Regions from separate parts of the Homo sapiens genome. Here all the other regions are linked to region 3. Evidence: fine-mapped expression QTL. A gene starts in region 3. Each other region holds a variant in brackets. All regions are shown on one strand. Distances are between the middles of the regions. Region 1 overlaps NLRP2 (NLR family pyrin domain containing 2). Region 2 has its middle 21 kb from the start of LILRB4. Region 3 holds the start of GP6 (glycoprotein VI platelet).

Region 1 (9,338 bases), 54 kb after region 3:
GAAGAATCACTTGAACCCGGGAGGCAGAGGTTGCAGTGAACCAAGATTGTGGCACTGCACTCCAGCCTAGGAGACAGAGCAAGACTATATCTTGAGAAAAAAAGAAAGAAATTAGTGACCCAAATCTTTAATTCACCCAATATTCCCCCTCACCCTGCATCCCATTATTCTCAGGCAAAAAGAAAAGAGGGTAATTGCAACGGTTAGTAATGATAGCAGCCACTATTGAATGCATGGGCTTGGTTTCATTCAACCTTCCAATACCTGTAAGATGTACAGCATCCTATTCAACTAAGATCCCATTAAGCAGCCTAAGATTGTATCAGTAGAGCCAGAGCAATCAATTTTTTTTCTGTCCTCGAGATGGAGTTTTGCTCTGTTGCCCAGGCTGGAGTGCAATGGCGTGATCTTGGCTCACTGCTACCTCTGCCTCCTAGGTTCAAGCAATTCTCTTGCATCAGCCTCCATGAGTAGCTGGGATTACAGGCACGCGCCACCATGCCCAGCTAATGTTTTTGTATTTTTAGTAGACGTGGGGTTTCACCATGTTGGCCAGGCTGGTCTTGAACTCCTGACCTTGTGATCCACCTGCCTTGGCCTCCCAAAGTGCTGGGATTACAGGCATGAGCTACCGCACCCAGCCAAGATTTTTTTTTTTTTTTTTGAGACAGTCTCACACTGTTGCCCAGACTGGAGTGCGGTGGTGTGATCTCAGCTCACTGCAACCTCCGCCTCTCAGGTTCAAATGATGCTCCTGCCTCAGCCTCCTGAGTAGCTGGGACTACAGGCGTGCGCCAACATGCCCAGCTAATTTTTGTATTATTAGTAGAGACAGAGTTTCACCATGTTGACCAGGCCGGTCTTGAACTCCTGACCTCAAGTGATCCACCCACCTCGGCCTCCCAGGCGTGAGCCACTGCGCCTGGCCCAGGGCAATAATTTGAGGCCAATGACCACCTACTACACCAGTGTGGCCAAGTGAGGCTTCATGGAACCCCATGATGCATGTAGGTTCTCATCGCCTGGGCAGCCACTGGACAGCTTCCCAAGGGGAGAGCTCTCAAACCAGAGGACTAACAGAAAAGGGGCAACTTGATGTTCCTGAAGGGTTCTTGCTTGAAAAATGTCAATAGCTGGTATTCTGAATCATCATACAGGAGAAGCATGAACCATGAGTGAATGATCTCTGATAGAAGATAAAGATTCTGGGCTGGGCACGGTGGCTCATGCCTCACTTTGGGAGGCCGACGGCGGGGTGGGGTGGGGGTGGGGGGGTAGATCACCTGAGGTCATGAGTTCGAGACCAGCCTGGCCAATGTGGTAAAACTCCATCTCTACTAATAATACAAAAATTAACCAGGTGTGGTGGTGTGCACCTGTAATCCCAGCTACTCAGGAGGCTGAGGCAGGAGAATCACTTGAACCTGGGAGGTGGAGGCTGCAGTGACCTGAGATCATACCAACGCACTCCAGCCTGGGTGACAGAGCGAGACTCCATCTCAAAAAGAAAAAAGAAAAAGAAAAAACCAAAACCAAAACCAAAACATAAGGACTCTGGCTGGGCATGGTGGCTCATGCCTATAATCCCAGCACTTTGGGAGCCTGAGGAGGGCAGGTCACCTGAGGTCATGAGTTCGAGACCAGCCTGGCAATGTGGCGAAACCAGCTCCACTAAATGCACAAAAATTAGCCGGGCGTGGTGGCGGGTGCCTGTAATCCCAGCAACTTGGGAGGCTGAGGCAGCAGAATTACTTGAACCCAGGAGACAGAGGTTGCAGTGAGCCAAGATCGTGCCATTGCACTTTGGCCTGGGCAACAGAGCAAGACTTCATAAAAAAAAAAAAAAAGATGATAAAGATTCTGGGAGTTTCTTTGGATTCAGGGTCCTCACGTATGGTTGTCCAGGGTGTTTACTGTTCAAGGCAAGTAGAAACTCAAGTTCAGCCCATGCTGCATCCTGGGTCATCTGCCCTTAGTACTGTTTCTAGTCAGAATAACGAACTTTTTCTTATTTACACAAAATTGCCACATAAGCTTGTGGTAGCTTATGTTTGTATGATGAAGGATTTTAATGATTAAGAGATATACCCGAGATATCGCAGGTTACATTCTGGATGTCTCAAGACCTCACACAATGCGGGAAACATATCATCCTGGTCATTGCCTTGAAGGGTCAGATACGTTACAGTCTTGTGACCTCGAAGAGCTAGGCAGAGGTTCCGATGAGCATCAGCTGGGGAAATGTTTTTGAACCTAGGGAAAAGAGAACGAAAGTGAAATCTTTAGTGTGTACACCTGTATCGTACTTAAATGGAAACCAGGGGCTCGATATATTTAAACTTTAGGAACTATTTTTTCCATGTTTAAATTTTTGTCCATCTTTACAGATTTTTTTTTTCTTTGAGATGGAGTCTCACTCTGTTGCCCAGGCTGGAGTGCAGTGGCGCGATCTCGGCTCACTGCAAAGCAAACTCTGCCTCCCGGATTCAAGCGACTCCTACCCTCAGCATCCGGAGTAGCTGGGATTATAGGCACCTGCCACGACACCTGGCAAATTTTTGTATTTTTCGTAGAGACAGGGTCTTGCACCATCTTGGCCAGGCTGGTCTTGAACTCCTGACCTCAAGTGATCCCCCCACCTTGGGCCCCCAAAGTGCTGGGACTACAGGCGTGAGCCATTGTGCCCGGCCCTTTTTTTCTTTTTCTTTTTTTTTTTTTTTTTTTTTGAGACGCAGTCTCGCTCTGTCACTCAGACTGGAGTCCAGTGGCAGGATCTTGGTTCACTGCAACCTCCGCCTCCTGGGTTCAAGTAATTCTCCTGCCTCAGCCTCCCAAGTAGCTGATATTACAGGTGCCTGCCACCACGCCTGGATAATTTTTGTATTTTTAGTAGAGGCAGGGTTTTGTCACGTTGGCCAGGCTGGTCTCGAACTCCTGACCTCAAGTGATCTGTCTGCCTCGGCCTCCCGAAGTGTTGGAATTACAAGTGTGAACCACCATGCCCAGCCCCTAGAAATTACTTTATACGATTATCCCACAAAATAAATTTAAGGACAGGACTCTCTCAATTCCCTGTGTCTCGAGCACTTAAGAGTCTAGTACAGGAATCTGAATATTGCTCCGATGTTAACATTGTACCATTTTCATACCCTAAGGATTTGAGTTCATGAATTAGTTTCTACTTACACCACTCTCTGGAGATGACAGGTGTCAGAGGCTATTTGTTCACACAGGATCCTTACTAGGGAGGCACTGAGAAAGCTATCATTGATTGCTAGACCCATCAGATCCTTATTTGATCCAAATATGGAACAAAGGTCCGTCCAGAAAGGAAGCATGTGCTGATCATCCTGGGATCTATAGGGAAGAGAAGAAAGGGTTACACCAAATGTGTGTCCATCACGGCTGAAGTATTTAGGGTTTCTCTGGGCATATACCCCTGACAAATGAGTACAATTGAAAGCTGGACCATGTAATCACTTATTAGCACCACCATCAGACAACTCAACACCCAAGAAGCATCACAGGAGAAAGAACCTATTCTTCTTAGACAAAAATCCAATAGAGGGTAAAAATAAGTTAAAATGCTAAGCACATCATTGATAAAAGATAGAGAATATAGACCGGGCACGGTGACTCACGCCTATAATCCTAGCACTTTGTGAGGCTGAGGCGGGTGGATCACCTGAGGTCGGGAGTTCGAGACCTGCCTGGCCAACATGGTGAAACCCCGTCTCTACTAAAAGTACAAAAATTAGCTGGGCATGGTCGTGGGTGGCTGTAATCCCAGCTACTCATGAGGCTGAGGCAGGAGAATCATTGAACCTGGTGGGGCGGAGGTTGCAGTGAGCCGAGATCGAGCCACTTCACTCCGACCTGGGAAAAAGAGTGAAACTCCGTCTCAAAAAAAAAAAAAAAGATTGGGAATATACATATCTATACATATCAATAAGAAATATTCAGGCAGGGCGTGTGGTAACTCATGCCTGTAATCTCAGTGCTTTGGGAGTTCAAGACCAGCCTGGACAACATAGTGAGATTTTGTCTTTCCAAAAAAAAAAAAAAAAAAAAAAACACAAAAAAAAACCCCCACTTAAGTTAGCTGGACATGATGGTGCACACTTAATACCTGTCATCCCAGGTACTCAGGAACATCACTTGAACCCAGAAGTTTGAGGATGCAGTGAGCTGATTTCACCACTGTACTCCAGCCTGAGCAACACAGCAAGACCCTGTCTTAAAAAAATATATTTGGGCCGGGCATGGTGAATCATGCCTGTAATCCCACTTTGGAGGCTGAGGCAGGTGGATCACCTGAGGTCAGGCGGAGTTCAAGACCAGACTGGCCAACATGCTGAGATCCCGTCTCTAATGAAAATATAAAAATTAGCCGGGCAAGGTGGCAGGCGCCTGTAGTCCCAGCTACTCAGGAGGCTGAGGCAGAAGAATCACTTGAACCCGGGAGGCGGAGGTTGCAGGGAGCCAAGATCGCGCCACTGCGCTCCAGCCTGAGCGACAGAGCAAGACTCCATCTCAAAACAAAAACAAACAAAGAGTCCAACAAGAGGGAATTCCTGACCCTAAGCCACAGTGCATAGGAGGCTCTGGCCTCTTCCTAAGGGGGCATGGGATGAGGCTAAAGATGGAACGACTGGTAGAGTGAAACGGTTCTCACCTCTCAACCTCGGCGTCTGATTCAGACGCAGTGACATTCTCCGGGAGATTCTCCTTTATTACCTGCAGTGACATTTTCTGCAGGTTTCGACAGTGCTTGACGCAGAATGAAGATGGCACAACGTCTACTGCATTTAAGTGCAGGGATATTTCTTTGAACTGAGCCATCACCTCCTTCACCAGCTCCTCCTCCTGAGACTCGTACAGACAGCCGAG[G/C]AGCTCCTGCAGGTCTGTCACCGTTGAATGTCCACCCTTACAACTTATGTCGCATCGCAGCAATTCCTGTTTGATGTCCGGTGACATCCGGCAGCCAAAAGTGGCCTCCAACTCCTTGGCTCTCTTCTCGTTAGCGAGGCCAAAGGAGTAGTAGCCTGCTTGGATCAGGTCGGGGTTCCTGAGTCTTTCTACTCCGGAAAGCAGCTTCTGTACGTCCCCAATGTCCCAGGTGTGGCCGTCCCTATCCTCTTCCTCCTCCTTCTCCAGGGTGTAGAACAGGGCAGTGAGAAACTGCTGGAAGCTGAGGTGGATGAAGGAGTAGCAGCCTTTGGAGACTCTGTCCTGGCGGAGGATGTCTCCGTCCAGGAACAGACGGAGGTCGGACTCCTGCACCCCGAGCCTTTCCAGATCCTCTCGGTGAAGCACGGACGTCTGCGCCCACAGGCCCTGCGCGGCCAGGAGGCTCAGCGTCCGCAGCGCGCCCCGCAGCTGTGCGCCCTGCGGGAACCGGCTGCAGAGGAAACGCAGGAACAGCCCCGTGCGGGTGAGGCAGGTGGGGACCGGGTCCTCCCCCTTCTCCATCTGCAGCTTCAGAGTCGTGCACACGATCCAGCACACCGCGGGGGCCGAGCCCAGCTGGAACAGGGCCGCGTTGCTCCTCATTAGCTCAAAGGCACGCATGGCTTGGTCCTCGTCTCCAAAGTGTCTCAGGAAATAGGCCCTCCTGTCCTCCTCCAGGAAGCCCTCCACCCTTATGTAGATCGGCTCCTCCGCCAGGATCCGGAGGTCCCTCAGGGCCCTGGGCCGCGTGGTGACCAGCAGGGCGGCCTTGGGTAACATCACCCTGTTCAGCAAACTCCCCAGGAGGACGGGCACCGGCTTCTTCTTCTCCCAGTCCCCGCAGATGTCCTCGATCAGCGCCCCAGGTGCGGCTCCCAGCTCATCAAAGCCGTCAATCACGAACAAGATTTTCCGTGCTTGGGCTAGGATGTGTGGAATGTCATCCTGCAATTCAGGCCAGTCCCTGAAGACCAGCTCTGCAAAACTGCACGGGCCCAGGCGGCTGAGCTCCCTGCAGCTGAGGTAGAACGCATATTTGAATTTGTGGATGAGGTTGTCCTCTGCCCAGTCTAGCATTAGTTTCTGGGCCAGCGTGGTTTTCCCAAGGCCTGCAGGACCATACAGCACCACCGTGTATGAGAAGGGCCCGGGAAGCACCCTGGGGTTGCTGAATGGGATCAGCATCTTGTATCTCTCAGCCATAACCTGGACCTCTTTGCTATCTCCAGGCCAGCTCTTCCACATCTCCCGGAACTTCGTCTTCAATATATACCTGCACCTATTGTCTTTGTCTTTATCATTGGTGAGGAGGGAAGGGAGAGAGGATGCAATCAGTTACCCATAGGGAAAACCAAAATAACAAAATGCCTTGTGTTGGCCGGGCACAGTGGCTCATGCCTGTAATCCCAGCCCTTTGGGAGGTCGAGGCAGGCAGATCACCTGACATTGGGAGTTCAACACCAGCCTGACCAACATGAAGAAACCTTGTCTCTACTAAAAATAAAAAATTAGCCAGTCATGGTGGCGCATGCCTGTAATCCCAGCTACTCGGGAGGCTGAGGCAGGAGAATTGCTTGAACCTGGGAGGCGGAGGTTGCAGTGAGTCGAGATCACGCCACGGCACTCCAGCCTGGGCAACAAGAGCAAAACTCCGTCTCGATACATACATACATAAATAAATGCTTTGTGTTACATAGGAAAGTTAAGAGGACTTCAAGTTTATAAAGAGAAATCTGATCCCAAGCTCCCTGCAGGAAGATATGGTACAGACCTGGCTTTTTTCCTTTAAAGACTTCTTTACCCAGGCAGATGACATTTCCTTTCGTTTCTGTAAACGCTACAAAATACAAACTCATGTGAGATTGACACAAAATCAGGTGTATTTCCTGTGGAGTCCCAATTAGAGAAAAGGAGGCAGGCTGATGGGGCGGGGGGGAGGGGGGGCACGGGATCAGATAAAGCAAATAAGCTACAAATGTGTTTTCCGGCCAGGTGTGGTGGCTCATGCCTATAATCCCAGAACTTTGGGAGGCTGAGGTGGGGTGGATCACTTGAGCTCAGGAGTTCGAGACCAGCCTGGCCAACACAGAAACCCCATCTCTACTAAAAATGCAAAAATTAGCCAGGCGTGGTGGCGCATGCCTGTAATCTCAGCTACTTGGGAGGCCAAGAGGCTCGAGAATTGCTTGAACCTGGGAGATGGAGGTTGTAGTAAGAGATCGCACTACTGCACTCCACCCTGGGCAACAGAGCAAGACTCCATCTCAATAAAATAAATAAATAAGCTTTCCTCCATGGTTCAGGGCATACAAACAAGAGGAAACAGGTCAGCTATAGGTCTGTTTGAGACAGTCTCACTCTGTTGCCCAGGCTGGAGTGCAGTGGCGCAATCTCAGCTCACTGCAACCTCCGCCTCCCGGGTTCAAGCGATTCTCCTGCCTCAGCTTCCCAAGTAACTGGAATTACAGGCATGTGCCACTGCGTCTAGGCTAATTTTTGTATTTTTAGTAGAGATGGGGTTTCGCCATGTTGGCCAGGCCAGTCTAAAACTGCTGACCTCAGATGATCCACCCACCTCAGCCTCCCAAAGTGCTGGGATTGCAGGCATGAACCACTGCACTGGGCCAGGTCTGCTTTTATGGTCCAGGAGATACGGCCCAAGATGTTTGGCCTTCCTGGCCAGATCACACACAGAGCTCACAAACTCCCTGTTTGCCATGAAACGCCTCAGTTTATCAAACACTTCTGCTGAAAGAAGACCGCAAGTTAAACCCCCTGTTGACATTATCAATCAGCCCAAGCCCTATTCTATAAAATCTGCAGGAAGCTTTGGTCTCCTGGCAGTGAGCTACTCATGACAACCTGCCCGCTGGGGTCTCTCTGCCAATGTCTTTTCCTACTTTCTCCAATAAATCTGCCTTCCTTTACCTACGATTGTCTTCATAAATTTCTTTACCCGCGGCTGGGCGCGGTGGCTCACGCCTGTAATCCCAGCACTTTGGGAGGCCAAGGCGGGTGGATCATAAGGTCAGGAGATCGAGACCATCCTGGCTAACACGGTGAAACCCTGTCTCTACTACAAATACAAAAAATTAGCCGGGCGTGTGGCGGGCGCCTGTAGTCCCAGCTACTGGGGAGGCTGAGGCAGAATGGCGTGAACCCGGGAGATGGAGCTTGCAGTGAGCCGAGATTGCGCCACTGCACTCCAGCTTGGGTGACAGAGCAAGACTGTCTCAAAAAAAAAAACAAAACAAAACATTTCTTTACCTGCCATGCCACCAGGCACTATTCACCCACATTTCCTGCTGAAGCATGATGATAGAGCAGGCACCACAGTACCCCAAGTCGCACCGAAATTCTTTGTCAAGATTGTGTGCTAGGCTGGGCACAGTGGCTCACGCCTGTCATCCCAGCACTTTGGGAGGCTGAGGCGGACGGATCACGAGGTTAGGAGATCCAGACCATCCTGACTAACACGGTGAAACCCTGTCTCTACTAAAATACAAAAAATTAGCTGGGCGTGGTGGCACACACCTGTACTCCCAGCTATTTGGGAGGCTGAGGCAGGAGAATCGCTTGAACCTGGGTAGCAGAGGTTGCAGTGGGCCAAGATTGCACCACTGCACTCCAGTCTGGGCAACAGAGTGAGACTCCATCTCAAGAAAAAAAAAGATTGTGTGCCAGGAATGACATTGGCCGTGTCTAGAGAGATGAACAGGGCAAACAATTCCTTCAACCAAGTTACTCACCTCTATTATACAGAGCCATAGCAAGAAATACTTGCTGTATCAAAAGTCAATGTGGGCTAGGTACGGTGGCTCATGCCTGTAATCCCAGCACTTTGGGAGGCCGAAGTGGGTGGATCACCTGAGGTCAGGAGTTCAAGACCAGCCTGCCCAACATGGTGAAACCCTGTCTACTAAAAATAAAACTAACAAATGCAAAAATTAGCCAGATGTGGTGGTGGGCGCCTATGATCCCAGCTACTCGGGAGGCTGAGGCAGAATCACTTGAACCTGGGAGGTGGAGGTTGTGGCGAGCCGAGATCACACCATTGCACTCTAGCCTGGGCGACAAGGGCAAAACTCTTTCTCAAGAAAAAACAAAAATGCTACCAGGAAGATAAGAGGGAATGTGGAGTAAGCAAGGCTGATCTGAAACTGATCACAGGCTAGGTGCGGTGGTTCACAGCTGTAATCCCAGCACTTTAGGAGACCGAGGTAGGTGGATCACTTGAGGTCAGGAGTTCTAGACCAACCTGGCTACCCTGTTGAAACCCCATCTGTACTAAAAACACAAAAGTTAGCCAGGCATAGTGGTGGGCACCTATAGTCCCAGCACCTGGGGAGGCTGTGGCAGGAAGACCCCTTGAACCCAGGAGGCAGAGA
Region 2 (11,047 bases), 350 kb after region 3:
TGGTGTGCACATGAACCTGTTGAAAAATTTTCTTGGAAAGAAAATATTTTATAACAACAACTAGAATATATTTAGCAAATTTGTATCAGAGATCAACAAACCAACAAACACAAGTTAGAGAAAGGGGCATGTTGCCCATTAAGTCATAGAGAAAACATACAAATACATTTAAATTATACCAAATAAATCATGTAAGCAGGAGTGAGAATGACACAATTATGGTAAATAATGGAGACGAGAAAATACCTGTGAGTCCTAGACCCGTTGTGATTACGGGCCCCATATGTCCTTCAGTAACTACAATCATTTATGAAAAAGTAAATACTGGTCTTTGTTTCTTTTATCGAATTCTTTGTTTTTCTTATGGAAACACAATTAGGAAATAATGAGGCTATATTTTACTTTCTGGGATGGTGACAGGAAATTCCTCACCTCACGCTCCCGTGGCTAGGATCTCAGCTGTCAGAACAGACCAAGCGTTCACCACTTAGGGGCTGAGAGGAGGAACAGTTTCAGAAAGCTTTGGCTTCAGAACCCAGTGAATCTGGAGCAGATGAAAAGGTTTCGGAACTCTGAAAGCGCTTTTAAATACGGTTAAGGATCAGAGTTGCATTTATTAGACATGAACACCCATATAGTCCCTGATTATTCCTGCTCTCTAAGCCTTGACAATTCTTAGTCACGTTTTGTAAAAGTGAGATTTATATTTTTCTAAATGAAAGATATAATTTACCTTCTTCACGCCGATCTGAGAAATTGTCTATAGACATATATTACTGGTGAAATCAAGTGCATTCGGCTCCCCGGAACCCATAAGAAAGGAGATGAAAGTGTACCGTTTTGCAATCATCACAGAAGGTTTTCAGAGACGTACAGCCATTGCCAACCAAAGTGCAGCATGCAGCCACCAGAGATATTTCAAATGTCCTAAGTACCAGTTGCCATTAGACAACAGGTGTGTGAACAGGAGCCAAGACCTGAACACACTCTTACCCCTCGTACAAAGAGGAGAGCTAAGACTATGAGGTTTGGTATATTTATTCAGACAGAGTCTTTCAGATGGGGCTATGACAGAGAAGGTAAACAGGAGATGCCAGGCAGCCCTGAGTGGGAAGGCTGGGGTGGTTCTGTGTCTCAGGAACTCTCAGAAAATACCCCTGCCCCATGTTTCTTTTCCATGTTCAGTTTTGACCTTAGGGGAAATAGACCGGGATGTTTACACCATATATATATATATATATATATATATATATATATATATATACACACACACATATATGTTGCAACAAATATTCTACATCTCTAAGAATATGGCTCTCTAACTGAAAGAAGGTCCACTTACCAAATGCAGTTTCTTGCTGGGAAAGCAACTGCCATAGTCACAGTCTAAGCACCTCCACAAAAGGGGGCATCTTAACCCTGAGATAAAGGCTTAAGACTACCATGAGATCCTTTTCTTGCCGGGAAGTGATTATCATTTCATCTGCAAGTACAGTGACAGTGTTTGCATAGGGATTTCAGTTGATCTAGAAAAACATCCGTGAAATGTTCAAATTACTGAAAGCTATTCGTAGCTATTAGTTTTAGTCGACTGAGAAAGTTGGAGCAAGAAAGAGAGAGATGGAAAGAAACAGAACAATAGAGAGACAGAGACAGGAAGAGACAGAGAAACTTAGAGAGGAAATCATATCTGGGAAGCTTGAAGTAGACTAGGTAGAGACGGCATTGCAGCCAAGGACATTGAGATCTAACTGAGAGAAGGAAAGTAAGGATAAGGCTGGGGTTTGTTTCTTGCCAACCTTAAGGTTTTGCCTCCCCCAAGAATATTTTTCCATTCTGAGGACTTTGCACTAAAGGCAGCCTGGAAGGGAGAAAAAAAGAGAGAATCAAGTAGAAATCATTTGCTCCAGTGTTAAAAATAAACTTGGAAGAAGTGGAGACACTTTTATTCACTGTTTTCATGGGCACACATTAAGTATCTAATGGGTCAAACGTGATTCTTGGTGTATAAGATGTATCAGAAAAAAGACAGAAAGACTTCTAAAAAAGTGTCTGTATTGAATCAATATTATAGTTGAGAAAGATGGATATTAGACAACAACAAAAATTAATAGAAAATCCAATATGTTATAGGATGATACATGTCTTGTGAGCAAAATAACAATAAAGTAATAGCAGAGAGCTCCCCTGAGCAAGAAGAAATTCTTCCAGCAGATTGTCTTTGGATTTTTTAGTTTGCTACAACTCTTTCCTGAGTCTCCAGGATACTCTACTGTCCTGCAGATTTTGGACTCACCAAGCTCCTACAATCACATGAGCCAATTCCTAGGTAAATGAATAGATAAACAAATAAATAGATAGATAGATAAATAGATAGATACATAGATACATGGATAGATACATAGATAGATACATAGATACACAGATAGACACATAAATAAACATTCTGCTGGTTCAATTTCTCTGGAGAACCCTTGAAAAAAAAATCATTTTGGTTCCAGGGATGATTCCAAAGGAACAGAATTTTTAAGGATGAGTTTTCTGAATTGGATCCAAAGTTTCTGAAATCGGCTTTCTAATTTGATTAGATTTAAAAACACTAATGACTCCATTTCCAGTAGTGTTGATAGTGCATAACATGATGTGGCCATAGGGATACACCAAATGTCATCATTGGAAACGCCTAACAAACATTTATAAGAATCTGAGTGGGCCGGGTGCGGTGGCTCACCCCTGTAATCCCAGCACTTTGGGACGCCGAGGCGGGTGGATCACGAGGTCAGGAGATCGAGACCATCCTAGCTAGCACGGTGAAACCCCATCTTTCCTAAAAAAAAAAAAAATACTAAAAAATTAGCCAGGTGTGGTGGTGGGCGCCTGTAGTCCCAGCTACTTGGGAGGCTGAGGCAGGAGAATGGCATGAACCTGGGAGGCGGAGCTTGCAGTGAGCGGAGACCATGCCACTGCACTCCAGCCTGGGCGACAGAGCAAGACTCCGTCTCAAAAAAAAAAAAAAGAATCTGAGTGATCATGTACATAATACTTTTGAATGTTTTTGAAAACTAATGAGCATAATGAGATTGGCTGGGTTGTCACTGGACAAAGTTGGGGAAAGAAGAGGATGAATTCAAAGATTTGAATTTTCAGTTCAAGTGCAAACATAAATGAGCTAAGACTTCTATATCTGCCCTAAAAGATACTCATCATTTGTAGCCACAGGGCTGAGGCCTTTGAAAAGTCAAACCTGGGGCCAGGTGCGGTGGCTCACGCCTGTAATCCTAGCACTTCGGGAGGCCGAGGTGGGCAGATCATGTGAGGTCAGGAGTTCGTGACCAGTCTGGCCAACTTGGCGAAATCCCGTCTCTACTAGAAATACAAAAATTAGCCAGGTGTGGTGGCTGGTGCCTGTAATCCCAGCTACTCAAGAGGCTGAGGCAGGAGAATTGCTTGAACTCAGGAGGTGGAGGTTGCAGTGAGTCGAGATCGTGCCATTGCATTCCAGCCTGGGGGACAAGGGCAAGACTCTGTCTCAAAAAAAAAAAAAAAGAAAAAGAAAAAGCAAACCCAGAAACTCACCCTTCAAGTGGCTAAATTACAATACAAATGGAATTCCCAGCCTCAAAGGGTGTCTACTTTAAGGGTATTGATTCGGAAGGTGTGGAATCTTGACATTTGGAATAGGGATGTGTGAAAGACACTGATGAAGGTAAGGACAGTGAGTTCCTTAATCATGCTCTTTGACAATGGAAGCATTCTCTCCCCGTGCATCTGAGGAGATTAACCCTGCACTGTCTGAGGAAACAATAGTGGCCTCCGCGGAGGCAGTTGCCATGCAAGACAGTGCTAATTTTCCTCAGGATCCGCCCCCACTACCCATCTTTGCTTCTAAGCCATAGGTTCAATGTGTGATCCATGGGGAAATGTGCTACACTCCAAAGTGACTACTAAGTTCTTCTGATTTATACACCTAGAAATCTAGGGAACATGTGTGCGAATGGACATTAAGGGTGTTGGATAATGGTGAAAGGAAGATAAAGTTGAGCCAGGCCAATGTTATTGATATGGACCTACTAAGGAGAGATCCTGCATTTAATGTTGCATCTCAGTGAGCTAGACATGGCTCTAACAGTTTGTCTGGTTCATTGGCTAAAACATGGAACAAACGTTGGCCCACAGTAAGAGGGGCCATATTGTATTCATAATGCACATTCCTAGAGAAATAAACAGATAGCTAGATAGACAGAGGATAGGTATATACATAAATAAACATCTGATTGGTTCCATTTCTCTGAAGAAAACTCTTGCAAAAACAGATTTTAGTCTAAGGGATAATCGCACTCAAACTTTATTGCACTCATAATATACACTCATGAGCAGCCAAGGAAACTCAGTATTCTGTATGACGAAGGAAGTTCCAGGATGCTTCCCTCTTGGCTTCCTGTCTGCCTACCCTGGTGTAGAGTACAAAAATAATTGCCTATTTAGATAGCAACATTCCATGGTCCAGCTAGACGTCATCAACCTCTTGAGCTTCCCCACATCCTGTTCAATTTTGGCTCCTATTCAAGGTCTCCAACAGACCTGGCCCTGTATCTAGACACCATTCCTATTTCCTCTATCAGGCCCCAGCCCCAGGAGAGTGGCTCCTGTGGTCGCTGTCCACAGCACTGACTGGGATGTTGCCATGAACTCTAGTTTCAGCACCATGGTCAGAGTCCAGGAAGCAACAAGGCTTCCACTGTTTTCTGGTGTGTTAGTTGATACATTTGTATGAGCTGGGCCCCCTCTTAGAGACTCCTAAATAGAGATTCCCTGAAGGTGTCTAATAAATATTTAGCGAATGCATCAGAATAAATTGGAAAAAGACACATCCACTCCATGGATTCTGAATAGGAATGGAATTCAGAAGCTTATGATGTTAGCCGCTCACCCAGCAGGACAACCACTAGCACGGCCCAGGGTGGCATTTAGAGTTGGCTCTTCCTCATCCACCTCAGGTCATCTCTTTCCAGACCATGTTCAGGAAACCAGTTTATAGGGTATTGACTAAAAAGCAACAGGCTTGGGGCCAGACACAGTGGCTGACGCCTGTAATCCCAGCACTTTGGGAGGCTGAGGAGGGATGATCATGAGGTCAGGAGATGGAGACCATCCTGGCTAATATAGTGAAACCCTGTCTCCACCAAAAATACAAAAAAAAAAAAAAAAAGAAAATTAGCCAGTCGTGGTGGCGGGTGCCTGTAGTCCCAGCTACTTGGGAGGCTGAGGCAGGAGAATGGTATGAACCCAGGAAGCAGAGCTTGCAGAGAGCTGAGATCACGTGACTGCACTCCAGCCTGGGCAACAGAGTAAGACTCGGTCTCAAAAAAAAAAAAAAAAGCAACAGGCTTGGAGTTACATCACAGTACTTTCAAAACCTACATCTGCCTCTTGCTATCTCTGTCTCCTTGGGAAAGTCACTTTGCCTCTCTGAGGCTCACTTTGCTTTTCTATAAAATTGCAATAATAAAAATGTCTTCTTTGTAAGGATATTTGGTGGGTTGACAATCAGAGATTATTATATTCTACCTCTCATAGGAAGCAATCAGTTGAACTAACAGGGAAGACTCTGGAGCCAGGAAGCCTGAGATTTGATCACAGCTCTGCCCCTTTTAACTTCGTGAGTTAGGGAAAGTTACCCACATTGCTATTGTGTCATATATAAACTTAGTATAGTGCTAGTATCTACCTTACATGGTTTTGGTGGGGAACTACATAGTTAATACATGTGATGTACAAAGTGAAATTCTACCATGTTCTTAGCAGTCATTCAATAATGTGGGCTATTTTTTACTATGATTATTATTTTCATT[A/G]TATGCCTAGAGATAACCTGATGAACTATGCTCAGTAAATGACAGCTGCTTTTATGAAGAATTGCTAGAATTGCTGTGAAGGTTCTTAGGCATCTGACACATTCCCTGGTTTATGTTCTAACATTCTAGACTCTCCATCTGAGGTTTATAGACTCTTTATCAGCCCTGAGGGATGCAGGTATTTGTTTATTACTAGATTCATGCAGAAAACATCCCCTGGGTCTCTGGCGTGCCATATCCCATGCAGGAAATGGGTGATGTGAAAGATGGATATTAGAAGCTTAGAATATCTTAGCTTAGTTTAGATAGCTAAGCTTCTAAGCTTAGATTAGAAGATAGCTTAGAAGACTATAGCTTAGGTAGCTTAATGGCTTAGAATCTTCTAAACTTATTAGAAGATAGTTTGGAAGCTTATCTAGCTTAGATAGTTTAGAAGAAGCTTAGCTATCTTCTTAGCTTAGCTTAGAAGAAGCTTAGCTATCTTCTTAGCTTAGCTTAGAAGATAGCTTAGAAAATAGCTGCATTTTTTAATAAATAGCTTAGAAGGTATATAAGCTCTGGGAAACTTTGTAATTTTGAGTTGGTCTGGCAATGTTTTCCAGGCCTTCTCCCTGTAACCGGTAACAGAAATAAAAACTCTCTCCCTCCCCAGTTCATCCGCATCTCATTATTGGGCCATGAGAAATAGCAGCCCCACCCTCAGTTTGGTCTGGGAACACTTTGGGGGTAAGATTAGGACTGTAACCCGCAAGTGTTCTTGGGGCAAACAGGGTCACTCTCTGTCAAAACATCTGAGTCATTTCTCCTTCCTTACTACCTCTTTTCTTCCCTGCTCACAGCCCTCAGCTGATACCATGGATTCTGTCTCCATGCTTTGGGCAAGAGTGATCCCTGGAGGAAATGAACAGGTGTTAATGTAAGACATGAGGGTGGAATTTACTGATGGTTGACCTTGATCATGTAACACCTCTTTCCCATTTTCCTCCTTATAGAAGAAGATAATGACCCATATCTCAGGGTTGGTTTGAGGATGAGTATTGCCTGAGACATGTAAGGCTCTCAATCTCGTGTAATCTCTTTTACCAGATCCAGACACGTGGTGTAAGAGCCTTTATGTTCCAAAGGTAAGTCAGGAACAATCCGTCATCACGGGTGGAATGGTAAAGTGTCAGAAAAAGTTACAGACTGCAGGAATCCTGGAGCTCATCCCGAATTCTGTACTCAGCCACATTAGAATTTAAGATGTAAGGTGAAAAGATCAGCTTCATGTCTGAACACTGTGGGACTTAGGACGTCTCTCACTTATTAGGAATCCTACCTCACATTAAAAAAAAAAAACACTGGGTCATGTTGCAACTTTTTAAGATAAAAGAAATCTGCATAGAACCATGCTCTTTTTTCTTAAATTTCCATTCACTGAAGTAAAATACAGATAATGTAAAATTGACCCTTTAAAAGTATACAACTCTAGGCCGGGCGCAGTGGCTCACGCCTATAATCCCAGCACTTTGGGGGGCCGAGGCGGGTGGATCACCTGAGGTCAGGAGTTCAAGACCAGCCTGGCCAACATGGTGAAACTCCGTCTCTACTAAAAATACAGAAAAATTAGACAGGTGTTGTGGTGGCCACCTGCAATCCCAGCTACTTGGGGGGCTGAGGCAGGAAAATCGCTTGAAACTGAGAGGCGGAAGTTGCAGAGACGCGAGAATACACCACTGCACTCCAGCCTGGGCAATAAAAGTGAAACTCCGTCTCAAAAAAAAAATACATATATATATATATACAACTCTGTGGCATTTAGTAGATTTTCATTGCAGCAACTGCCACCTCTAGTTCCCAAAGATTTTCATCACCCCAAAAGGAACCCCGTTCCACGGAGCAGTCCCTCTCCTCTCCCTACCCCTGCTCAGCCCCAGGCAACCATCAATCTGCTTTCTGTCTCTGTGGATTTCCAGCTGCTGGACATTTTATATAAATGTAATCATATAGTATGTGACCTTTGGATCTGGCTTCTTTCACTTAGCTTCATATTTTGAATCTCCAAATTGCAGCATGCATCAGTACTTCATTTTTATGGATGAGTAAATTTCTAACATATGGATGCAACACGTTGGTTGGTGGACATTTGTGATACTTTTATCTTTTTATTGTGAATAATGCTTCTATAAACACTTGGGCACAAGTGTTTGGATATTGTCCAATGAGATAAGTCTCTTATCATTTCAGGAGATTTATTTGCCAAAGTTAAAGATGTGCCTGGGAGACAGATCTATGCCTTTCTCTGAAGATGATTTTGAGGGATCCAAATTTAAAGGGTAAAGGGCGGGATATTGAGAAGCACACAATTTTCATGTAAGAGGAGGGTAAGGAAAAATAGTTACGCATGCCTTTGTCTAGCTCAGTGAATCTGTATTTTTTTTAAAAATAGTCATTCATGCCTTTGTCTGGTTCAGTGAATCTGCACTTTTTACATCAGACGACAAAAACAAATGGGGCAGAGGAAAATATGCAGTGAATCTGCATTTTACATAAGATAAACATAGACAAAATTGGGTGGGGGAATGATCAGATATGCATTTGTGTCTGATGGGCTGGGGAGACTGTACCTGGAAAGATAAGTTATCAATATACACTGGAAAGATAAGCTATCAATATACACTGGAAAGATAAGCTATCAATATGCATTGGAAAGATAAGCTATCAATATACACTGGAAAGATAAGCTATCAATATACACTGGAAAGATAAGCTATCAATATACATTGGAAAGATAAGCTATCAATATACACTGGAAAGATAAGCTATCAATATACACTGGAAAGATAAGCTATCAATATACACTGGAAAGATAAGCTATCAACATACACTGGAAAGATAAGCTATCAGTATACACTGGAAAGATAAGCTATCAGTATGCACTGGAAAGATAAGCTATCAGTATACACTGGAAAGATAAGCTATCAATATACACTGGAAAGATAAGCTATCAATATACATTGGAAAAGATAAGCTATCAATATACACTGGAAAGATAAGCTATCAATATACACTGGAAAGATAAGCTATCAATATACACTGGAAAGATAAGCTATCAACATACACTGGAAAGATAAGCTATCAGTATACACTGGAAAGATAAGCTATCAGTATGCACTGGAAAGATAAGCTATCAGTATACACTGGAAAGATAAGCTATCAGTATACATTGGAAAGATAAGCTATCATACACTGGAAAGATAAGATATCAATATACACTGGAAAGATAAGCTATCAGTATACACTGGAAAGATAAGCTATCAATATACATTGGAAAGATAAGCTATCAATTTACATTGCCATGGTGAAATTTTAACAGCTCACTAGGAATCTTCTTGTGGGCAAAACGTGGGGGAGGCATGTAGCTTTTCACCTTGTAGCCATCTTATTCACGAACCAAAATGGAGAGGCAGGTTTGTGTGACCCAGTCCCCAGCTTGACTTTCCCCCTTAGCTAAATGAGTGTGGGGTCCCAAAATTTAATTTCCTTTCACAATATCTACTATCAGTCTTTTTTTTTATTGTGGTAGGAAGAGTTAATTCTCCTACCAATTTTTAACTTCATGATGCAGTATTGTTAACTAAAGACAAAATGTTGTAGGGTACATTGCAAACTTCATTCGTCTTGTATAACCTAAACCTTTAGTCACATACCTAGAAGTGAAATTTCTAGATCATAGAGTAATTCTAGGTTTATTTTTTATTTTATTTTATATTATTATTTTATTTTATTTTATATTCAAAAGGTACATGTGCTTGTTTGGTGTATGTATGTGTGTGTGTGTATATATATATATAAATAGATAGATAGATTTTTTTTTTTTTGAGATGGAGTTTCACTCTTGTTGCTCAGGCTGGAGTGCAGTGGTGCGATCTCGGCTCACCGCAACCTCCACCTTCCAGGTTTAAGCAATTCTCCTGCCTCAGCCTCCCGAGTAGCTGGAATTACAGGCATGCACCACCATGCCCAGCTAATTTTGTATTTTTAGTAGAGATGGGGTTTCTGCACATTGACCAGGCAGGTCTCGAACTCCTGACCTCAGGTGATCCCCCCCATCTCTGCCTCCCAAAGTGCTGGGATTACAGGCGTGAGCCACCGCACCCAGCCCTAATATATTTTTTTAACCTCTTGCCCTCCTCCCACCCTTCCCCCCTTTTGGGTTTCCCTGTGTTTATCTCCATCTTTATGTCCATGAGTGCCTATTGTGTAGCTCCCACTTGTAAGTGAGATCATGCAGTGTTTGGTATTCTGATTCTGAGTTAGTTCACGTAGGATCATGGCCTCCAGCTCCATCCATGTTCCTGCAAAGGACATGATTTCACTATTTTTTATGGCTATGCTGTATTCTGGGCTATATATTTACCACTTTTACTTTATCCATGCCACGATGGATGGACATCTAGGATGGTTCCATGACTTTGCTATTGTGAATAGCACCACGGTGAACATACGAGTGCGTGTGTCTTTTTTAATATAATTATTTCTTTTACAGTAGTGGGATTGCTGGGTCAAACGGCAGTTCTGTATTTAGTTCTTTGAGAAACCTCTATGCTGTTTTCCATAGAAGTTGAGCTAATTTACCACCAACAGCATATAAGCCTTCCTAGGTTCATCTTTTAAGGAACTGTCAAACCGCTTTTTTCTTTTTCTTCTTTCTCTCTTTTTCTTTCTTTCTTTCTTTTCTTTCCTCTCTCTCTCTCCCCCTCCGTCCCTCCCTCCCTCCCTCCCTCTCTCTCTCTCTCTCTCTCTCTCTTTCTTTCTTTCTTTTTGATGGAGTCTGGCTCTGTCACCCAGGCTGGAGTGCAGCGGCACGATCTCGGCTCACTGCAACCTCTGCTCCTGGGTTCAAGCTATTCTGCCTCAGCCTCCTGAGTAGCTGGGATTACAGGCACCTGCACCGTGCCCAGATAATTTTTGCACTTTCAGTAGAGAAGGGGTTTTGCCATTTTGGCCAGGCCGGTCTCAAACTCCTGACCTGAGGTGATCCTCCTGCCTCGGCCTCCCAAAGTGCTGGGATTACAAACGTGAACCACCACGCCCGGCCTCCAAACCACTTTTCACAGTCACCGAAAAATTTCACAATCATGCCAGCAGTGCGTGAAGGTTCTCTTTCCGCACACCCTTCCTGACATTTGTTATTTTTCAGAATATGGCCAATC
Region 3 (8,860 bases):
CAATATCCCCCCTCTTCGGTGGCACAGGGGCTGGCCCCATATACATGTGCGATGGCAACTGACAGGGTCCCTGATAAACCGGAGTGCTCCAGAAACACCCCATTGCGTGGGACGGAGGATGTTAGGTGGCCCTCCTAGCGTTTGAGTTTGATAAATGAGCAAAGGAAGTGGTTTTTACTAGAAAGCCAGCTTTCCTTTTTTTTTTTTTTTTTTTTCCAGCCAGCAAACCCCAAACAGGAACCTATGGTTGGTGATGGATGTGCGTTCAGAAAGCAGGGAGGGAGGGGGAGTCAGAGGTGAGGGGGTCATCAGCCATAGCTGTCCGCTGCATCACCCCCTCGCTATCTCCAGGAAGCGTTCTGGGCTTTTCCTGTTGTGCAGTGTGGAAGTGCTCTATCTTCATTCATATCAAGGAAAGTCAAAGGACAAACTAAAGCCGGCAGCGTCTTTCTGGCTTCCTAGTCAGGCTGTTCGGTAGCGGAGTGTCACCCTGATTTCCAGCCCCGCAGCACACACAGTGAGAGCCTGCCTGGCGTGATTCAGAGGCAACGTATTTCCCAAGGTGGCTGTGAAGGAACCAGGGGGATAAACACAGCCCGTGAACCGCACGCCAGAGGACAGGTCCGGCTGCCTGCCGCGGAGTCGTCACGGCGTGTCGCGTCTGAGCGCTTCTCCAAAGCACCCAAGTGGCACCCGGGGTGACAGTTACATCATCTTGAGTACAGTTCTCTCAAGGAAAAAGCAAGCCCAGCATCTTCTGCCATGGCAACCCTGGCTTGGAGCCTCCATAAGAGAGAAGGCCCTAAGAATAATACCATTTTCTTGCTCTAAGTTGCTCTTACGGGAAAGAAGTGATAATATTCTTCCTAAACGCCATCATTCGTGCATCCTTCCCACCTATATGTGTCACCGGATCATTCTCCGCCTGGGCGGGGCCGTCCTGTGCACTGCAGAATGCTGAGCAGTGTCCTTGGCTTCGACCGACCACATGCCAGGAGCACCCCAATTTCTGCCATCGGGTGATTGACTTCACTGTTGCATTTGATTTTTTATGTATCTTTTAAAAGGACCCAATAGGGCCAGGCACAGTGGCTCACACTTGTAATCCCAGCACTTTGGGAGGCTGAGGTCGGTGGATTGCTTGAGCCCAGGAGGAGTTCAAGACCAGCCTGGGCAACATAGTGAAACCCCAACTCTACAAAAAACAAATGTTTTATTTTTATTTATTTTAGATGGAGTTTCACTCTTGTTGCCCAGGCTGGAGTGCAGTGGCGCAATCTCGGCTCACTGCAACTTCTGCCTCCCGGGTTCAAGCGATTCTCCTGCCTCAGCCTCCTGAGTATCTGGGATTACAGGCATGCGCCACCACACCCAGCTAATTTTGTATTTTTAGTAGAGATGGCGTTTCTCCATGTTGGTCAGGCTGGTCTCAAACTCCCGACCTCAGGTGATCTGCCTGCCTCGGCCTCCCAGAGTGTTGGGATTACAGGCGTGAGCCACCACGCCCAGCCGGGTTTATAGTTTTATAACCCTTATGACAAATCTCATAGTATTCTGCAGGGATAAGCATGAAACCACTCGTTCAATAAGTGCAAACAAAAACGCCAACAATTCTTAAGACATTTCTAATCTTATTTTACCAATAATTTTAAAGCCAGCTTATGTATTAAAGATTTATAACTACTTTTATTAACACGTTTAAAATTCTATGCAGCTTAAAGCATTTATAATGGATAAAACTGCCAATACTGAGTGCCTGACATAATATTTGAAAGGTGGCAGGCATTCAACCATGGTCACTGAATGAGAGATGTAGGGAAGATGATGGCAGGGAGGTTTTTAGATATCAACACCCTGATAGTTCTCATTTTAACCACCTGTAAGTGCACATACAAGTCAACGGCACTGGCCGGGCGCGGTGGCTCATGCCTGTATTCCCAGCACTTTGGGAGGCCAAATCACAAGGTCAGGAGATCGAGACCATCCTGGCTAACACGGTGAAACCCCGTCTCTACTAAAAATACAAAAAATCAACTAGGCATGGTGGCACGCACCTGTAGTCCCAGCTACTCAGGAGGCTGAGGCAGGAGAATCGCTTGAACCTGGGAGGCGGAGGTTGCGGTGAGCCAAGATCGCGCCACTGCACTCCAGCCTCGGCGACAGAGTGAGACTCCGTCTCAAAAAACCAAAAAACAAAAAACAGTCAATGGCATTAAATATAAATACATTTACAGTGTTGTGTAACCATCACCACTATGGATCCCCCAGACTTTGTCATCATCTTCAACCTAAGCGCTCCCTATTAAATAGTAACTCCCCACTTTTCCCAGGCCTTGGCAACCACCATTCTAATCCCTGTCTCTATGAATTTGACTCCTCTCGATACCTCAGATAAGCGGCACAATGCAGTATTTATCTGTCAAGTCCGGAATATTTCCTTTAGCATAATGTCTTCAAGGTCCATCACGTTGTAGCATGTATCTGAATTTATTCTTTTATAATATTTTTTATTTTTTGGAGACAGAATCTCGCTCTGTCACCCAGGCTGGAGTGCAATGGCGCGATCTCGGCTCACCGCAACTTCCGCGTCCCGGGTTCAAGCCATTCTCCTGTCTCAGCCTCCGGAGTAGCTGGGACTACAGGTGCCTGCCGCCATGCCCGGCTATTTTTTTTTTGTATTTTTTGGGGGTTTTACTGTGTTGCCCAGGCTGGTCTTGAACTGCTGAGCTCAGGCAATCTGCCTGCCTCAGCCTCCTAAAGTACTAGGATTACAGGCATGGGCCACCACGCCCGGCCTTATTTTTATTTTTGAGACAGTCTCACTCTGCCGCCCAGGCTGGAGTGCAGTGGTGCGATCTCGGCTTACCGCAATCTCTGCCTCCCAGGTTCAAGCGATTCTCATGCCTCCGTCTCCCAAGTAGCTGGGATTACAGGCACCTGCCACCATGCCCGGCTAATTTAACGCCCAGCTAATTTTTGTATTTTTAGTAGAGATGGGGTTTCACCATGTTAACCAGGCTGGTCTCGGACTCCTGACCTCAGGTGATCCGCCCGCCTCGGCCTCCCAAAGTGCTGGGATTACAGGCGTGAGCCACTGTGCCTGGCTGATTTTTATTCTTTTAGTTAAGGCTGGTTGATATTACCTTGTGTGTATATACCACATGTTGTTTATCCATTGTTGTTGATGGACATGTGGGTGGTTTCACCTTTTGGCTATTGTGAATAAAGCTGCTATGAACACTGTGTACAAATATGTTAGAGACCCTGTTTTCAGTTCTTTTAGGTGTGTACCCCGAAGTGGAATTGCTGGATTTTATGGCAATCCCACGTTTAACTTCTGGAGGAGCTGCTGGAACTGTTTTCCACAGCAGGGGCGCCATGTTACGTCCCTGCCAGCAATGCACGCGCAGTTCAATTTCTCTGCATACTCACCAATATCTGCTGTTTTCCATTAAAAAAAATTATAGCCGGTCGGGTGCAGTGGCTCATGCCTGTAATCCCAGCACTTTGGGAGACCGAGGCAGGTGGATCAACTGAGGTCAGGAGTTCAAGACCAGCCTGGCCAACACAGTGAAACCCCATCTCTACTAAAAATACAAAAATTAGCCTGGTGTGGTACATACCTATAATCCCAGCCACTTGGGAGGCTGAGGCAGGAGAATCGCTTGAACCTGGGAGGTGGAGGTTGTAGTGGGCCGAGATGGCGCCACTGCACTCCAACCTGGGCAAAAAGAACGAGACTTTGTCTCAAAAGAAAAAAAAAAAATACAGCCATTCCAGAAGGTGTGAAGTCATATCTCACTGTGGTTTTGATGCGTATTTTCCTAGTGACATCAGGGAGTTTATGGGAGCACGGGAACACAGACCAGGCCCCAGCAGGCGGACAAACGGTGCAACGCCAGGCTGGCCAGAGGAGATAAGCGCGGCTCCTTGGAGCTTGTGTGCAAGTCACTGTACTGAGGAGCCGGCTACGGCTCGATGAGTCTCAATTAGGAAAGGCCGGGGCTGGTGGAGGAAGGGAGGAGAGCATTCTTCATCCTCATCACATCCTGAGCCTGTGCCCCAGGCTCCCACCACTTCCCTCCCTGGCCACAGAGCTCAGGACAGGGCTGAGGAACCATGTCTCCATCCCCGACCGCCCTCTTCTGTCTTGGTGAGTCCTGAGGGTCAGATCTGGGAAATGCTGAAGGACAGGCATGGACTGCCAGACAAAGGATTTTTAAGAAATTTGCATTGGTGATGAATTTCAGGACAAAAAGGAACCTGTAAGAGCCCCTTCATTTGTTGGGTGGGGAAACGGGGGGCCAGCGAGCTGGCATTTTGCATGAGTTATTCCAGTGTATTCATGGCTGGGTCAGGAAATGAACAGAGTATCCTAGCATTGGTCACAACTTTGTTCTACTACACTGCAGTTGCCCCTTTTTTAAAAAATGTGGGCCAGGCACAGTGGCTCACGCCTGTAATCTCAACCTTGGGAGGCCGAGGTGGGTGGATCACCTGAGGTCAGGAGTTCAAGACCAGCCTGGTCAACATGGTGAAACCCCATCTCTACAAAAATTAGCCGGGCGTGATGGCGGGTGCTTGTAATCCCAGCTACGTGGGAGGCTGAGGTGGGAGAATTGCTTGAAACTGGGAGGCAGAAGTTGCAGTGAGCTGAGGTCAGGCATTGCACTCCAGCCTGGGCAACAGAGAGAGCCTCCATCTCAAAAAAAAAAAAAAAAAAAAAAAAAAAGGCTGAGTGCCATGGCTTACACACTTTGGGAGGCCGAGGCGGGTGGGCCATCTGAGGTCGGGAGTTTGAGACCAGCCTGACCAACATGGAGAAACCCCATCTCTACTAAAAATACAAAATTAGCCGGGTGTGGTGGCACATGCCTGTAATCCCAGCTACTCTGGAGGCTAAGGCAGGAGAATCGCTTGAACCTGGGAGGTGGAGGTTGCGGTGAGCCAAGATCACACCATTGCACTCTGGCCTGGGCAACAAGAGCGAAACTCCGTCTCAAAAAAAAAAAAAAAAAAATTGTGGAATTGATATCTGGACTAGGTATGGATTTAATTTGTCAGTATCCCCTACAGTAGTGGAGTAAATAGTCTCCTGATGGATGGGTGGCAGGTCGAATGCATTTCTGCTGCCTGATCTTCACTTGTGCTGGGCATGTCGAATGCATTATTTCCTGATTTCTTCAGAATTTGACCACTAAAGGGACAGCATCTCCAAAAGGCTAAGCAGGAAGAAGATGGTTGCATTACTGGAGATGAGAGGGTTAACTGTGAATATAAACAACCTCTCATTCATTATCCATCCATGGATGTATTCTTTTTTTCTTTTTGTTTGTTTTTTGAGATGGAGTCTCGCTCAGTCGGTCGCTCAGGCTGGAATGCAATGGCATGATCTCAGCTCACTGCAAACTCTGCCTCCCGGGTCCAAGTGATTCTCCTGCCTCAGCCTCCCGAATAGTTGGGATTACAGGCATCTGCCACCAGGTCTGGCTAATTATTGTATTTTTAGTAGGGGCGGGGTTTCACCATGTTGGCCAGGCTGGTCTCAAGCTCCTTACTTCAGGTTCCACCCGCCTCGGCCTCCCAAAGTGCTGGGATTACAGGCGTGAGCCACCGCACCCAGCCTGTTTTAACTTTTATTTATTTAATTTTATTTGAGATAGGGCCTCACTTCTGTCACCCAGGCAGGAGGGCAGTGGCATGATCATGGCTCACTGCAGCCTCAACCTCCCAGGCTCAACCAGTGCCTCCCCATCAGCCTCCTGAGTATCTGGAACTACAGTTGTACACCATCATGCCTGGCTTGTTTTTGTAATTTTTTTAGTTACGGGGGTCCGCTATGTTGCCCAGGCTGGTCTTGAACTCCTGGGCTCAAGCGATCCACCCACCTCGGCCTCCCAAAGTGTTGGGGTTACAGGTGTGGCCTGTACAGGTTACTGCATCTGGCTTGTTGCTTCAGTAGCTTTTGGGATACAAGTGGTTCTTGGTTACATGGATGAATTATATTCTGGTGAATTCTGAGATTTTAGTGCACCTGTCACCTGACTAGTGTACCTTGTACCTAATGTGTAGTTTTTCATCCCTGCCCCACTTCTGCCCTTCCCTTCTGAGTCTCTGAAGTCCATTACATCACTCTGCATGCCTTTGCATACCCACAGCTTAGCTCTCACTTATAAGTGAGAATATACAGATTTTTGTTTTCCACTCCTGTATTACTTTACTTAGAATAATGCCTTCCAGCTCCATCCAAGTTGCTGCAAAAGACTTTTTTTTTTTTTTTTTAAAGACGGAATCTCGCTCTCTCACCAAGGCTGGAGTGCAGTGGTGTGATCTCGGCTTACTGCAAACTCCACCTCCCGGGTTTAAGTGATTCTCCTGCCTCAGCCTCCCGAGTAGCTGGGACTACAGGCACCCGCCACCATGCCCGGCTAATTTTTGTATTTTTAGTAGAGATGGGGTTTCACCATGTTGGGCAGGATGGTCTTGATCTCTTGACCTCGTGATCCACCCACCTCGGCCTCCCAGAGTGCTGGCATTACAGATGTGAGCCACTGTGCCTGGCCAAAAGACATTATTTCACTCCTTTTAATGGCTGAGTAGTATTCCACGCTCATTTATTTTTATTTATTTTTATTTTTTGACATGGAGTCTCACTCTGTTGCCCAGACTGGAGCGCAGTGGCATGACGTTGGCTCACTGCAACCTCCACCTCCCAGGTTCAAGCGATTCTCCTGCCTCAGCCTCCCAAGTAGCTGGGATTACAGGCTCCTGCCACTACGCCCCGCTAATTTTTGTATTTTTAGTAGAGACAGGGTTTCACCATGTTGGTCAGGCTGCTCTCGAACTCCTGACTTCAGGTGATCCGCCCACCTTGGCCTCCCAAAATGGGATTACAGGTGTGAGCCAGCGCGCCCGGCCGGTGAGAACATTTAAAATCTACTATCGGTGATATGCAAGTGTACAATATGTTGTTATTAACTACAGTCACCATGATGTGCAGTAGATCTCCAAGACATACTCCTCTTGTCCAACTGAAACTGTCCTCCTCTGACCAACATCTCCCCAAACCTTACCCCACCGCCCCGGTAACCACCACTGTGCTCTCTACTCCTGTAAGTTCCCAAGTCCACACTCTTTACCACTAATTGGTGCTGCTAGGGTTTGAATCTACTCCTGCCAGCTGTAGGACTGTGGATAAGATACTGTCTCACTAGCCTGATGTATAAGAGGGGACTGATAATGGTGGGTAACCCGTACGATTATGGCGACTTGGAGTCCATGCACAGAAGGCGCTCAGCACGGCGCCTGGAAGACTCCCAGCCATGGTACAGCGTCGCATGGAAACCTACAAAGAGGCTGAGGTGGGCTGTGATGCGGCAGGAGGAGGGGGACAGAGAAGCGGCCGGAGCTTGCGTTGGGGTGCAGAGGGAGCCTGGGGTGGACAAAGGGTGGTGGCTATGGGGGCGCTGGTGACAAGTTGTCACTCTCTGAGCTCAGAGTCAAGACATGAGCTGGGTTCACCCACTTCTTGCTATGTGAGCTACACAAGGTTGCTTGGCCTCTGCCCAGTTTCCTTATGTTTACAGTGGGAATGACAACTATCCCGCCTTTGTGTGTGTGTGTGTGTGTGTGTGTGTGTAAGAATGAGGGTTACCAGATAAAACACTGGATGCCTGGTTAAATTGGAATTTCAGATAATTAGTACTTTTTTTTTCCTCCTCCTCTTCGTTTTCTGAGACAGGGTCTTGCTCTGTTGTCAGTCTGGAGTGCAATGGGGCAATATCATTTTTTTTTTTCCTCGAGATGGAGTCTTGCTCTGTTGCCCAGGCTGGAGTGTAGTGGCGTGATCTTGGCTCACTGCAACCTCCGCCTCCCGGGTTCAAGTGATTCTCCTGACTCAGCCTCCCCAGTAGCTAGGATTACAGGCACGTGCCACCATGCCCAGCTAATTTCTGGTATTTTTAGTAGAGATGGTGTTTCACCATGTTGACCAGGCTGGTCTTGAACTCCTGACCTTGTGATCCGCCCACCCTGGCCTCCCAAAGTGCTGGGATTATAGGCATGAGCCACCGTGCCCGGCCAGTGGTGCAATCTTACCTCACAGCAGACTTGACCTCCTGGGCTCAAGCAATTCCAGGAGGGGATCGCTTATGTACATGTATTTGTATACATATGTATACACACACACACACACACACACACACATGCATACATATATACATATACATACATATACACGTGTGTATGTACACACGTGTATATGTACATACACATGTATGTATAGATGTAGGTTTACATATATGCACTATATGTGTATATACATATAGTAATCAGATCAGGGTAAGTAGCACACCCATCTTCTCAAACATGCATCCTTTCTGTGTTGGGAACTTTCCCCATCCTCCTTCAGGCTATTTGAAACGATTATTATATATATTATATCCTATCATGTAATCATGGAATACTGATTCAAGCAAATGTTGTAAATACCGGGAAACCCATGGCCAGCACATGCTGAGACGTCCTGACTTACACGCTGAGGCTCCATCCTGCTCCATCCTTGGAGCCCAATGCATCCCATTAGTGTGGGGTTTTATCGCATATATTACATAGACAATAAAATACAATAATATACAATATGCAATAGTATTTACAATACTTGTCTATACAATTGCATACTATTGTAATGTACTTGGATATTATTTAATATTGGGAGACTGAAGGGAGGAAACGAAGGGACAGCAATGTCTCAGGTCCCATTCCTCACATCCACTGAGGAAGTCAATGGGCAATGTCTAACACGAACGAGCCCACCGTGTCTAACACAACACAAACGAGCCCACCGTGTCTAACACAACAC

The links.
Region 1: its variant is fine-mapped to the expression of GP6 in lymphoblastoid cells (TwinsUK, PIP 0.95).
Region 2: its variant is fine-mapped to the expression of GP6 in prefrontal cortex (GTEx, PIP 0.95).

What each region holds. Positions count from the first base shown.
Region 1 is chr19:54,979,066-54,988,403 of GRCh38, reverse strand. NLRP2 (NLR family pyrin domain containing 2) reads right to left here. Exons shown (of 13, transcript NM_017852.5): 5 at 6,722-6,787; 6 at 4,676-6,242; 7 at 3,187-3,357; 8 at 2,089-2,253. Among named protein-coding and RNA genes, the nearest start is that of NLRP2, 17 kb to the right of the region's middle. The variant G/C (reference allele first, on the strand shown) is at 4,891.
Region 2 is chr19:54,678,277-54,689,323 of GRCh38, reverse strand. No RefSeq gene overlaps it. Among named protein-coding and RNA genes, the nearest start is that of LILRB4, 21 kb to the right of the region's middle. RefSeq lists a silencer at 4,582-4,782. The variant A/G (reference allele first, on the strand shown) is at 5,853.
Region 3 is chr19:55,033,496-55,042,355 of GRCh38, reverse strand. It overlaps GP6 (glycoprotein VI platelet), which reads left to right and starts at 4,092. Exons shown (of 8, transcript NM_016363.5): 1 at 4,092-4,153. The coding sequence starts at 4,120. The region is part of intron 2 of GP6-AS1 (GP6 antisense RNA 1); the gene reads right to left. It also overlaps a transcript of RDH13 not described here.